Linked DNA regions of Homo sapiens. The protein of the gene in region 2 interacts with the protein of the main gene of each other region in a biochemical or structural test. Each region holds a gene or a part of one and is shown on either strand. Other genes may lie near its edges.

Region 1 (7,025 bases), on a different chromosome or scaffold from region 2:
GAGTCTTCCACTGGTAAAGTGATTTTCAAAAGGAAACTGAAAATGAAAAGGGGAACAAAATGTGCTGGGTGAGGGTTAGCCTGAAATAATTTTAAGATTTTTTTTTTTTTAGAACTTAAAAACATTGTATGGTAAGACACTTCTGTTTTCAGGAAGAATGTCTAGCGTTTGGATTTTTGAAATGCTGTTGGTTATGTGCGGTAGCTGTTTTGGAGAGGTGTCTGAAAGCAGATGGCAACTGTGCTTCTCAGTTTCTGGATGTGAATGTGTGATCGGAACGTTTATTTTAAAACAGATTCTGTCTTGCTGGCTCTTCCTCTCTCTGTCACAAGTTGATTTTCCAAATCAGGTTTTGCTATTTATAAGGCTTTCATCATCCCCTAAATTTTGCCCAGATTGATCGTTTTTCCTTTCCTCCTTCGACTTTTCAGGCTTCCCAACTTCAAACACAGGTGTTTCCCACACGTGGTTTGTGTCGACCATCCCTTTTGCCTCTGAAACATGTGCAGCTTGCACAAGGCTGCTGGAGCCTGGCTTTTCTAGCTCCACCTTTCCCTGCCTTGACGAGTCCAGTCCACCTGGGCCAGGTGCCTGAGTTCTAGGCTTTTAGGTGAGAAATTCCCACAGCCTTGTCCTGTACCTTACTTCGTGCCCCTACTGCTCACGGCATCTTCTAGAACCTACCCGCTGGTGAGGCTGGCATCTGCCCTCCAGCATTGATATTCTGATCTTATTAATTAGCAGGGAAGTGGGAGACCCGCTGGCCTCCAAGTCTGTGCGCTGGTACTACAGGTAATGACCACCCCAGCCCTGTCGTAGAGAGAGGCTGCAGAAACTTCACTTTGGTTGAATTCACACAGTAACCCCACTAGCAGGCCCGGGCATAAGGGTGGATGTCTATTTTTAACAGGTGAAAACTGAGACACACATACCTTTCAGCTGGGAGTCACACTGCGAACATGTGACACAGGCAGTCCACACCTTTAACGTCCACGCTATGCTTTTGCCTGTACAGATTCTCTTAGGCATTATTTTTATATAACCTTGATTTAAAAAATATATTTTTGGCTGCACTATCACTCCCCATTTCAGAGTTGTCTATCTGAGAGAACACAGACAAGAGGTGCTAATTACCTCGTACTTCATCACATGTAGGATATGCTATAAGAACAAGGATAGGCGCACATGCATTACTTATGGTAGTACCTCATGTCAGGCCTGAGCTAGGCATGGGTCTTACCCTCCCTCTGGTCCTTCAATCACCATACCAGGATGGGCACTTATGCCCATGGGGGGACTCTAAGCTCAGTGGGGGCCCAGCATAGAAGAGCAGCACTTGGTCTCAGTTTATCATAGTCATTAGTTTCAGAGATTAGTCTAACTCCACCCTGGAACTTTTGGGGCCAGATAATTCTTTGTTGCAAATAGCAGTCCTGTACATTGTAGGATGTTTAGCAGCATCATTGACCTCTACCCATTAGAGGCCTGTAGCACTCTCCCCCAGCCAAGTTGTGGCAACCAAAAATGTCTCCAGACATTGCCAAATGTCCCCTGGGAAAGGGGCAGAATTTTTGAGGCTCATGTCTGCTAACCTCCGTCATTTAGCTTTCTGCTAAAGCTCATGCTAACTTGACTTCATAACCAGTAATAATTCCATGTCTTTGGAACTGTTGCCTGACCACCCCCTTGGGATGACGTGCTCACCTCTGGCTTCCAGAAGAACTGGCCCCGGGCAAAAGGAGAGCCTTGTATCGTGACTAACCTTAACTATGTCTGCCCTACCCCCACTGGAGTGTGCCCCTGAGGGCAAGAGCCTCCTTGAGCCATCTTGGTGCCACTGAGCCTCACACAGAGCCTGGCTACCTTGCATGTGACAGTAGGTGTGCGTTGACTGAACAATGATTGAAGCTGTTACCAGTATGTGTTTTCCAATTGTCTGGGGTTTGTTTGAGACTCTTCTCAGGTAGACAATACCTGAGCCCCGCATCAAGATGGGATGGGGGGAGCTGTGCCTTCCCACTGACCACACCTGATGGGTTTGGCTGGATAGATGGACTACAAAAAGGAATGTTGCAGAGGGAAAACTAAATGAACCCATGCAAATATTTGCAGGGGAGGAGGACAGGAATTATAAAGGCTTTCTGTTTTGATTGTTTTTCGCCACCAGAGCAAGAAAGCTTTCTGCTCAGCCATGGCTACGAGTCCACGCCTTAATGCACCCCACAGCCAGCGGCAGTGGCAGTGACAACAGCGGGACCTGCCTTTGAAGATCGGCTGCTGCAAGGGTTGATGGCTGGCATGTCGCAAAGACCCCCCAGCATGTACTGGTGTGTGGGGCCGGAGGAGTCAGCTGTGTGTCCAGAACGTGCCATGGAGACGCTTAACGGTAAGGACAGGGCTGTGCTTATGCCTGCCTGGGTGTGACCTGCCATGCTCATCCTGCAGGGTGTCTAGGCTATGTAAGAACAAGGAGTTCTCAACCAGTGGAAATCAAATGTCCATCATTTGGTGCTCTTTCATCATATAATATATCTTGGGACTCTTAAATTCTAAAAATTGAGGAACAGTGTACAAAATTTATTGTGGACTCACAGATCTTAACAATTGGGACATCACTTCATGCTGGGTTAAAGAACTTTTAAGAAAAAGGATGTAGTTTTGTTTTTTCATTATAAAAATAATACATGTTTATTAAGGAAAAATTGAAAAAAATAATTTAAAAAAAAGGAAGAAGGGAAAGGAATCATCCAGAATCCCGCTATCTCAAACACAAGTACAATGAGCATCTTGGCATGTTCTCTCCTAGTCTCTGCTTCTCTGTGTTTAGGGGACTTTGTTTTAACCTTATTGTACTTACAAGGTGTATGTAATGTTGCATGTTGCTTTTTTCTCTTCACCGTCCATCAGTGACATTTGCTTAGGGCACCACCTGGCTCCCGCAATCAAGTGAAACATCATTTCATTTATTTTATTTTATTTTTTTACGATTTAATAATTGGATCAAAAAATGATTCATAAATTGGGCAGTACTCCGAACCAAAACAAACATCATTATCTGCGGGAGTGCTATGTGCAGTTATTGACCTAATCCTTATTCTCCTGTGGGACATTTGGGTTGCTTCTAGTTGTTTACTCCTACTGAGAGCATTTCCTTCCCATCTCTTCATACCTGGTTTCAAGGTTATTTCTGTAATGCAGGTTTACAGAAGTTGAATGATTGGTCTTGAACATCGTTAAGCTCTTGGCACGTATTTTGCCAGATTTTCCGCTACACTTGCACCACCTTTAAGACCAATAGGATATCATCGTTTACAAATATTTGTCAATCCCTTAGTATGTACCAGGCACTACATGTACAAAGTTCAGAACTTTACGAAATAATGTCATAAAATCCTCACGACAACCTGGCACATGGTACTTTTATTTCCGTTTTATAGCTGAGGAACATGAGGGTAAGAGAAGCCTGGAAACGTGTTCAAGGTCAACAACTCAGAAATCACAGAATTGCCATCTGAACCCTGTCTTAATGCTGCAACACTCATTCTTAAATGCTAGGCCACACTATGGGAGGTGAAAGGGTCAACAGGTTGGGTCTGAGAGGCCCACGTTTGTACCCTTAACCGTGTTAACTAACGATCGGCCACTGTACCTGGCTTGGCAGACACTTTGTTCAGTTGTTTGAGTGTTTTCACTCCATCTGAAATGTCCAGCAGCTGACCAGGGTGATGTTTCTGGAAGGTGTCGTTTCACATCCATCACATTATGAAATGGGAAACGAATTTGCTTCTTGACATTGCCCAGCACTAAATCTTTCCAGAGTGTTCAACTTGCATCTTTGTAAATTTTCTTTTTCTTTGTATTAGACGTGTGTCTTTTTTCAGTTGTGTGGTAGGAAGACCTTGCTCTGTTGGTGTGAGATCGAGGTGGCGTGGGTGATAGAACGCAGTCCCCGATTTGGGGGTAGCACCTCCACCTTTCCAGTGCACGTGAGGCTCCCTTATCCTCCTGCTGCTCCTCTTCGCAGCCCTGAGGGACGAGGGTGGGGACAGGGACCTTGGGTCTGTTTGGGGCCTGTAGGGTAGGTGACTGTGTCATCTGAAAAAGCCCACAGGAGGCGCTGCTCCCTCCCCTCCTGGTCAACAGTTGGTGATCTAAAGGAGTGCTTCTCAACCACGGCCCACACAGTCACTGGGTAGTGGCTCAAACCGGCAGGGCCCTGGCACCACCTGGACCCACTGGAGCAGCATCTTGGGGCAGGGGGGCGGGGAGTGAACAAGCATGGGTAATTTTTTCTTTTTCATTTTCTTTCTTTCTTTTCTTTTTCTTTTCTTTTTTTCTTTTTTTTTTTTTTTTTTTTTTGAGACAGTGTCTTGCTCTGTCACCCAGGCTGGAGTGCAGTAGCATGACCTCAGCTCACTGCAACTTCCACCTCCCAGGTTCAAGTGATTCTCCTGCCTCAGCCTCCTGAGTAGCTGGTACTACAGGCGTGCGCCACCACGCCCAGCTAATTTTTGTATTTTTAGTAGAGACGAAGTTTCACCATGTTGGCCAGGCTGGTCTAGAATTCCTGACCTCAAGTGATCCACCCACCTCAGCCTCCCAAAGGGGTGGGATTACAGGTGTGAGCCACGGCGCCCGGCCAGCATGGCTAATTTTTCAAAGTTCCCTAGTGATTCTAACGTGTAGCTAAAGTTGAGAATCAGGCCATCTAAATGGTTTGAGTCCCATAGAGCAGCACTTCTCAAATTATCAGGTGCACATGTCCCCTGGGGATCCTGATGAAATGCAGAATCTCATTCAGGAGGCCTGGGGCACAGACAGCCTGCGTTTCTAGGTCCCCAGGGATCCCCCGTTGATTCTTACAGGTCCCAGGGACCGGGGCGCAATGGGCTTTGGACAAACCCATCCCCACCTCCAAGCTCGTGGCAGGACAGATAACCAGAAAATGTTAAGGTGTTCCGAAAGGCCAAAGTGTGGCACTCCCCAGCCCCCATGATTCTCCCTAAAGGCCTGCATCTGAGCTTGGCACTGCTCCTTAGGAGGTGTCCTCTCCTGACTCTGCTCTGATGGCCTCTTTCCCCAGTGGGATCTCAGGAATCCCTGCTATCCCTGTTCTGTATAACCCAAGGGACACACACAAGGGCCAAGGACCCTGACGTGACCTCAGCAGCCTTCACTGTGTACTGTTCAAGGAGCTTGAAGTAGGGACAGGACAGGGAAGTGACACCCTGGGAACCCCTGAGAATGAGGGAGGTGTTTGTGCAGTGACCTAATACAGAGAACACAGAGTTGAAGAGGAGAGGAAGATAGCCTGAAACACCCCAGAAAGTTCTGTCCCCTGTTTAGCATTAAGAAAATTATGTTACATGTTAATGAATTACAATAATAACCAAATCCTCATAAGGAATCTGGTGAGAAGCTACTAATTTATACCCATACTCAGAGTTTTAAGGTCCCACAGGTGGTACCAGCAGAACTGAGCCTGTGAGCCCCAGCCCTGGAGCTCACTAACAGAAGTTATTAATTCCAGGGACTAAAGCCTACAGTGCTCCCTCTGTAAAGCCCAATTTTAACGCATTGCATGTTGGATTTCATTTTCGCAGAATATATTAATAAATGTGTACACTAAGACTACAGCCAAGGAGCAGGTAATGCTCAAAGGGTGGCGTGTGGCCACGTCTGTGTGCTGGGATTGCAGTCACTGTGCTTTGCTCATCGGTGCTGTTTATGTTTCCTGCAATATCTACACATTGCTTTTTGTTTTGTTTTGCCTTCTTTTGCATCCAGACGAATAATATTGCAAGTTATTTTTAAATTATTGTTTATTTAAGTACTGATGATTTGTGTTTAGAATCTAAACGGTAAACCTCCTGTGCTTACATCCAAAGTTAGATCTGCCTCCACTGGCCTCTTTGCCTTGAAGTCTTTCTGGAATAAATGCGGAATACTTGACTTACTATGACTGCAGCTGATCCCCCCGCAGGACTCACCCTCTGCACATGTCCCCAGAGCCTAAGCTGGATTTGTCCCATCCCACCTTCTCCTAGACTTCCTGGGATGATAGGGAGCCCTGTTTCCCCTCTCCCACCCCCCAAATCCACCAGCCTCACTCAGGGAACACTGTTCAGGCCTAATTTCCAGCTCCGGCTGAGAAAAGTTGGCCGCCAGAAGGAAAACTAACGACACTCAAAATTATGTAGGGACAGCTTTCTCATGCTTTAAAAATCCTTGGAAGATAACGTGATTGAAAACGACGACGTTCTTATTATACTTCCACGTGTGCGTTAGAAAAAGACCCACACTTTAAAAAAGAGTGTCTACTCTTGGGTGTTGGGGTAATGGTATTTTTAATTTTTTATTTGTGTACTAGGCACGCCTTTTCACACCCCCTACCTGTTGTGACTTGCGTGACCTCAGCTCATGTTTGTTTACAATGGTTAATCCTTTCAAAGCCCCTGGATGTGGGGGGCTTTGCCCAGCTGGTGTGAGGCTGGGGTCTGTGTGTGTCTGCCCTGCCGTGCGGCCCGCTGTGTGTTTGTGCAACACAATTGTGTCCCAGGAAGGTGTGTGACAATCTCAACCTCATTAGCACCAGCAGCAGTCAGCTCGCCTGCGGTGCAAGAGGAATGGTTGGAAAGCTTTGATGGGCGTAGAGTTTGCCAGCTGACAGAGCAGCTGTCAATGAGATGCTGGGCATGGGCTGCAGGACGCGCATTACTTTGACAAACATGTCATTAGATGTTCATTCTTCTGAGTATGTCTGACACCAGCCAGAGTGGAAAAACCAGTCCCGCCAGCCAAGGAGAGCTGTCCTGGAAAGTAGAGAAGTCAGGAAACTTCCACATAATTCAGGTGGAGAATACTTGGGAAGACTTCTGGATTGCGGAGGGTGGGTGGAACTTGAGCAGACATCACCCAGGCAGTGGCTCGCCCCCCCAGCTCTCTGTGAGTGGCCGTCGCTTCGGTCCTGAAAGCCCTGCCACAGTCACACACCTCTCAGAGCACTGCCCACCACCGGACCCAGC
Region 2 (7,626 bases):
GAACTATAACATAAGACTGTAACAAGGGTTATGGGAGTTATGAGCCAGGAAAACGTTGTATATATACAGAGAGAGAGAATCGTAATATCATAGTATTTTTTACAAATTACAATAATTGTTAAAAAGTAACAATAGTAAGCAAGATGGTTTGAGCCACTGAAGAATGCAAAACTCAGAGTCCATTTAGAACTGATCGTCAAAACGGAGAAAAGGGAATCACCTCTGTAGAAGGAAGAAATACAGAAGACAAAATGCAGTCCAAAAAAAAGGGCTACTGTATTGATAAATTCCATTAGAGATAAATGGAAATCCTTTAACAGTTTGTAAAACTGCTGCCAAACATTTTAAACATCATGTAGATCAGTTCATACTCCAGGTCATAAAGTATGAAATTTCTTCCACAATTGACAGGATCAGTGTGGTTAGGGAACATTAAGTGCACACTTCTAAGTACAAACTATAAGGTTTTATTCTACACAGTTACACTACTTTATTAGTCAACAAAATCAAACTATTAGAGCAAAATTACATATGAGTTTCATGTTTTCTTTTAAAAATCGATCTTCTACGCATGATTCTAGTTTTTAATAGTGTTCAGTGCCATTGCCCATGTGGTTTCAAAAAAAACTTTAATAGGATCTACATTAGCATTTTTCTCTATTTTTGCTTACCTTCGGAAATCCTTCCTTTTCAGCTAGTATTACTTTTTTAAAAAGAAGAAAAAAGGCCTACAAAAGTCCAGAATTACTAAAAAAAAGTCCTTGAAATGAACAGCCACATATTAATCACTTTTCTCCTCAGCTCAAATGTTAATTAAGCAAGTTGTAATTTAATCACTGATGTGCAATCAGAATTCATTTTACATTAATCAAACAGTAGAATATAATAATATTCAAAACCTGAGGCTTTCTTTTAAAGAGGAGCACTTCAGAGTGCTTTTGTACCTACCACATGTGAGGCATTAATTCAAGTTGGAGGACAATGACTCAGCTTGAAGGAAGGCGGAGTGGAGTAACAACCTCCCCATTCCTTTAGGAAAACTTTTCTTTCTGGCTAAGGGAGAGGAGAATGAAGTGGTTGAGAACATGCCCTCAACGTTCTGAAGACATGGAGAGATGTGTGTTACTTGTTATGTGGCTCCCTAAAAAGAAACATTACCAGTTAGAGGGACTTCAAGTAACTGAGGCCACCAATTTCTACTTTCGCTCTACTTTTTCTGGGAGTGGAACGGTCAGGTTTGCCAGTATTGTGAAAATCCATGAGGAAGCATTACTTCTCTCTTCCACTTGCCTCATTCTGAGTGGAACCCCAGAACCTGGTGTAGGGCTTAATAATCCAAGAAATTATTTTGAGTGGAGAATCTCTCACTCTCTGGCTCTTTTCTCCCAATAGTAACAATAATAATGCCTCACTTGTTAAGAGATACCGTGGTTATTGAAGTATTTTCTCAGCAAACAGATACTTCATGTTTGGGTGTATTAATGTAGGAAGATAAAGACACACATGCAGTGTTTCCTAAACTTTTTGGCTCACATGCTTCTTTGCTCATGCACAACCTAGACAAAACTATGTAACCAACTCCTGTGTACAGTTTCACGGAATTGCAGGTGCCTAACAAGATTTTCTTTTAACTACACCTGCTCACAAAATTTACACAGTAACTTGAGACAAACGTTCACAGGAAGTAGATAAAACTTTTCAATACACCGTTAAAGTCTTTCCAAAAATCTATTAACATTAAATTGTTTAGAAATTCTATACAAGTCTACTACTGTATTACCAAATAAATTCTTAAGCAAGAAAAGGGGAAAACTATCTTTTCATGCTTTCAGGCCAGTAACTAGCACTTAGTCTTCTATGTAGGGAGGTGCCCAATAAATACCGAGAGACGAACGGAACCGCTGAATCCCGTCCGCGAGGTTAGGGGAGAAACAGAAGCGGCAACGTCTCTGCTGCACGAAGCACCCGGTAACTTACTGCCTACCCCTCACTCCTGTCTAATCTTTGCTCTCAATGGATTGCTGGGTTGGTTTTGTTTTATTCATTTTTGTTCTGAAGCAAGGAAACTTAACTTCACGTGGAGGGCCACTGTAAACTGCTGCCTCCCTTAAAAAATGCATAACGAGAAGAGTAAGTTAAAACGTTTGGGGCCACACAGAAGGTTCTAGAAGTTCTGCAGACCCAAGCTGCCACAGTCCTTAATCGCATGGAATCTCACTGTAACTTTTATCTCCTCTGATTTTTTTCCGCTCCCTAACACCTAGGTAAATTAATCAAAGTGTGGCCACCGATAACGCCCTCACAGGTTTAGCTTAAATCGAATGCGTTTTCTCTCGGACTAGGGGAGATAATCCAAGAAACAAACAAAACTACACCACGTCCATCCACAACAAATCTCAACAAGCAACTTCGGTTGCCGCAGCCTCACTGTGCCCCAGGCCCCGGCCCGCCACACGCGGCCTCCGTCCGCTAACCGCCCGCGAACCGCCCGCGCGGCGAGCAGAACGCCCGAGACCGCCCGCCCGGAGCTCACCTGAGCTCCAGCTGGTCCAGGCTCTCCAGCAGGCGGCTGGAGCGGTCAGCCATGGAGGAGGAGCGGCAGAAGCGCCCCTCGTTGGCTTTAGCGTTGATCTTCGCCTGAGCCATCTAAGCCTCCGACGCGGGGTAGCCAAGAGGTCACCGGCCCCTCCGGCGGCAGCGAGTGGAGCGCTCCTTGGGCTGCAGGCGTCGCCGTCACCACGCGGGCGCCCGCCCTCCCTCTGACGCCCGCGGGGGCAACCCGGGAGGACTCGCCGACACCGCGGCTGCAGCGTAGCCAAAGAAGGGCAGGCGCGGCGCCCGCGGGGCTCGGGGACGCCGGGCCTGGGAGGGGGCTGCAGCGGCTGGAGTTAGAGGTTCGCGAGCCACACGGGCTCGAGGATGGGCCGACAGGGGCTCGGGCCTGGGGAGCGCAAGTCTCTGAGGCACGGGAGGGGCGGACGCAGAGACCGAGCGCCTAATGTGGCTAGCGGATCGTCTGCTCCCCGGACCCAGGAACTACCCGAAGCCCGCGCGGACCCACAGACCACCCCCAGCTCCGCCCCGCGAGGCCCCGCCTCTTCATGCAACCTAAAAGTAACCAACTCCCCCCACGCGAAGGTTCCTATCGGTCGACGGGCTGTGGGTGTATTGCTCAGTGACGGCTTCGTTTAGTTTCTCCCAGCACCCATAATTCAAAGCAAGAACAACGACATTATGGGGAGAAAACGTCCTTTTGTGAAACAGAAGGCAGTAAGTACAGCTCGTAGGCAGCCCACACTCACCTGACCTTCCTGTTACCACTTTATACTGAGATGAGAGTAATGAAAGCCCGGACAACACTGAAGCTATGAAGTAAAAAAGAAAAAGCTACTCCATCTTTCCCTGTCTAGCTAGATGTGGGAAGCAAAGTGAATTTACTTCATTTTTACCATTCTAATTTTCTTTTGTTTTTGAGATGGGGTCTAACTGTCGCCCACGTTGGAGTGTAGTGGCGCGATCACGACTTACTGCAGCCTCGACCTCCCGGGTTCAAGCGGTCCTCCCACCTCAGCCTCCCAAAGTGCTGGGATTACAGATGTGAACCACCACGCCTGGCTTAATGAAGGGGTTTTAAATTTTTGCTATTAAAATTATTCCTGTTGAGCGAGCCGAGATCTCGCCACTGCACTCCAGCCTGGGCGATAGAGCGAGACCTTGTCTCAAAAAAATAAATAAATAAATAAATATTCTGAGTGAAATAATTGGCATTAAAAAGTCCTCAACTTTTAAAAATCCTGTTAACAAAAAAGATGCAGTAGGCCTCTAGGTCAGGCACCAGCTGTCGGTAAAAGACGGAATAGAGCTGAGGATACAAAGATTAGTCTACTTAAAAAGTTAGGCTTTAGTCCCCTCTCCTGATAGCTCTATGCCTCTCATTGCAAGGATGACAATGTACAGGGCACAGAAAATGATAGATAATAATAGTTTAAAGCTGAGCCACCACCTTTAATCAGAGATCAAAGCCATTTAAATACTTGAACAGAGTTGAAGCCCTTAAGGCTGGATCCCAATTCCCTCTGAACTCATTTTAAATCCTAATTAACTCTTGGGGTAGGGGATTATTTGACCTTATTAAAAATAACTTTATCATGACACAAACGAAAACAAAACACATTTTGTGAGTGGTTTGAAAGTCTATCAAGTGACTTTAGAATCATCCTGAACTCTTTTTCTCTCTTATCCTAGATCCACACCATTAGTAAACCCCATCAATTTTGCCTTCAGAATATATCCAGATTCTTCCCAATTCTACCGCCACCATTCTGGTTCAAGCTACCTGGTGAGTTTGCACCTGGAATACTACAATACCTTCCTCTCTGGTCTCCCTGCTTCTACTCTTGCCTCTCATGTACATGTTATCTCAGTGCAGCAACTACAGCAATCCTAAATAAGGCAGATCATACCATTTATTCTCAGAAACCTTCACTGGCTCCTTACCTCAAAGTAAAAGCCCAGGTCATTAGAAAAACCTCAGTAAGTTCATTTCCTATTACTCTCCTAGCTCATCCTGTCAGCCATACTAGTCTTCTTGCTTTTCCTTGAATATACTAAGCTCCTGTCTGGACCTTAACCTCCTCCACCTGGAACTCTCTTCCCGATATGTATTTTCATCCTCATTCCCTCACCTTCTTCAGGTCTTTGCTCAAGTTTACCTATCAGTGAGATCTTTTCTGACAACCCTATTAAAAATAGCAAGCCTCCCCCCAACTCCCTGTCCCTGCACTATTTATTCCCTTCCCTTCTTTATTTTCCGTCGTTACACGTATCACCATCAGATATGCAGTTTTATTGCCTTGCTTACTAACATTGTACAATCCCCTCCTCTCCACCAATATGTGCTCCACAGAGGGGTAAGGGCTTTGTTTTGCTTACTGGTATATTCCAAGTGCTTAGAACAGTTGCTGGCACATGGTGGGTACTCAATATTTTGTGATTGAATGAATTAATGAGTGAATGATGTAATGAAAAGATAAGCATCTTTGTCAATGTTAGAAACATTTACTTCTGACGATAATCCATATAGCTTTCTCTGATGTTACACAGCGATTACATCTCCTTGTGTCTAAATTAAAGTCAAAGTATGAATTTTAAGATGATTTTTAATTATTTAACAAGTAGAAATACGATCAGTGACAATTATCAATTAAAACATTAAACAACCCAGTTACCTTTTCTTAACAGTCATGATGAAATATCCCTTTCCTGTCTTATCAGAAGCCTTAATTATTCTCTACCACACACACCACAAAAGCTTCTTAATAGAGCATCAGTGTCCATCACACCTTTGTGTAGAATCTCTGGCAACAAGGTGCTGTCTCCTCTTGCCCTGCCCCCACATCTGCTTAACTACTCTTCTTTCTGGAATGCCTCTTTTGCTCCCATTTTGTGAGCTCCTGCAGATGTGTTTAAGGTCCAGCTCAGTGACTACCTCCTAGAGCCTTGCTTGACCACTTAAACATACAAACTAAAAGCACAATGTGGTCATTTCGGAAAGATGATTGATAAATTCTCAAGCCACAATGTCTAGTTTTTAAAAAATGCAAGCAGGGAGGAACAGAAGTGACATATCAAGAAATTAAAAACACAAATTATAGATTGAAAAGACTATAGTAATAAAAAAATTCAATTTCACACTAAAATATTTAGTGTTACAGAGAAGGAACCAAATTCTAGCCTTTATATTTTGTCTTAAATATAAAGAAAAGCTTTATATTTATAGAAATGTTTTTAAGTTTGGTAAATAATTACTACTAAAAATTTTTAGAGATAAGACATTTCTGGTTAAATAACATGAAGCATATACACAAAGATAATATGACAAGCCCTTCTTAGTCTTCTACTTATGTCGTATTTTTTATTACTCACAATGGGGCCTCAATATTTAAGAATTAAATATGTAATACCAAATGAAGGAAACTGACAATTCAGTGAATAACTAAACTGAAAACACTTCACATGAAATAAAAATTTAAAGAGTTAAGGAAGATTATTCCTGAGTAGGCTTTCAACATTATTTCTTGAAGAATATTATGTTTACACCAATATATAAAAAAGGACTGTTATGAAAAATAATTTTATGCAAATATTCTGACACCATTCCCTTTAACCAGGAGACCATACAAGTCACATAAAAGTCTAAGCAGGTAAAAGGAATGGAAATTGTTTCATTTAAATTATTTCTTAAAAATTAAGGTGTATTTTTTATTTTAGCAATGTGCTGCTCTAATTAAAGCAATAATTTACATATGCATGGCACCCACAAAGAACATTGCTGATAAAATTTTAAATGTTTCCATGATCAGTTTCCATTACCCTCTTCTAATAAACATAAACAAAGATCTCAAAGGTATTATATAATAGTGCCACATGAGAAGTAGAATTTATGGAAAACTTGACCTATGTCACCTTTTTTATATTCATTTTCACTGCTAAAAAAATAAACTAGCATCATTTGTACAGTACAAATAAAATTAAAGAACTAATGCTATTTGGGAAACAACTGTCAAGAGCTTTCCTTTTTTTTAATCCTTTAAATCTAAATATATAAATTCAAAGTTAACTGGGAAACTGTTACACCTATATTAGAATACATAATTTATATTTGCATGAACATGTATTCTATTTCTTCTGTACATGTTTGCACATTAGCACAAAAATACAAAACAAAGATCAGATTTTGAACATATGAAAGCAAAAACATGTTTTCAAATACATTTGTAATAGTGGATTTCTGGTCTCCTTTAGAAAACAAACTCAAGAATTCGTTATCTCAGTCTCTTCAAGGCCACTTGATGTTGTGTGGTAATATCTTTAATTACATTTCCTCAAGACTTCTTCTAATAGCTTCTTCTAATTCCACATCTGCATTAAAAAACATAGAATTTTAACACTTAGGGCAGAAAACTCAACATGTGCTGTATTTATTTAAGTTTCATCGACTGTATTCTTTTCAAGAAGGAAAGTAAAATCAAAATGGAAAAACACAGGATAACTTGGCAGTTTCTCTACTAAAAAATTGAGTATTTTGAAATATGAAAATCTAGACATGATCTTGAATTGAATTTTATATATGAACTTAGAACTTGCAAGTTAATTCCACTTAGGAATGTAGAAAGTCAACAAACTTTTAAAATCACTGACAGGTAATCATTTGTTTCAACATTTAAAAAAAAATCTGTATCACTTATTTGCTAAAAGACTTGAGGTGATACATATAAGACTTTAAACAGAAAGGCAACTCCATGAAATGACAAAATGTCACAGGCCATTAAAAATTTAGTTTAATTTTTAATTATACCTCAATAAAGCTGGGGAAAAATTAGCTTAAAGCATCCTAGCATCTAAGGTAGTGAAACTCATAGCCACATAAATGTCATCTGAGAAGCATATAATATATGCTGTATGCAGATGTATGTAAACTCATTTGACAAATATTTATTGAATGCCCATTATATACCAGGAACAGCAATGTAATAGTGAACAAGACAGACGTTATTGGGTTCACAATAGTTGAGTTCCATCTCCTCCTTGGGAATGATGCTAAAATCCAGGAGGGTGAAATTTGGT

Evidence for each region. The genes of interacting proteins can lie anywhere in the genome.
Region 1: the proteins of BAG2 (region 2) and LRRK1 form a complex in vitro, tested with the Homo sapiens proteins (2 studies listed by BioGRID and IntAct, with this or other methods).

Annotation. Positions count from the first base shown.
Region 1 is NC_000015.10:100,922,344-100,929,368, forward strand, and holds part of LRRK1 (leucine-rich repeat serine/threonine-protein kinase 1), read left to right. Parts: intron 1-2,167; 5' UTR 2,168-2,289; coding exon 2,290-2,386; intron 2,387-7,025.
Region 2 is NC_000006.12:57,167,718-57,175,343, reverse strand, and holds the start of BAG2 (BAG family molecular chaperone regulator 2), read right to left. Parts: upstream 3,019-7,626; 5' UTR 2,647-3,018; coding exon 2,534-2,646; intron 2,475-2,533; exon of another isoform or gene 1,883-2,474; intron 1,142-1,882; exon of another isoform or gene 963-1,141; coding exon of another isoform or gene 949-962; intron 1-948. Other genes in the region: E3 SUMO-protein ligase ZNF451, read right to left, coding at 6,875-6,921. UniProt on the Homo sapiens protein: Co-chaperone for HSP70 and HSC70 chaperone proteins. Acts as a nucleotide-exchange factor (NEF) promoting the release of ADP from the HSP70 and HSC70 proteins thereby triggering client/substrate protein release.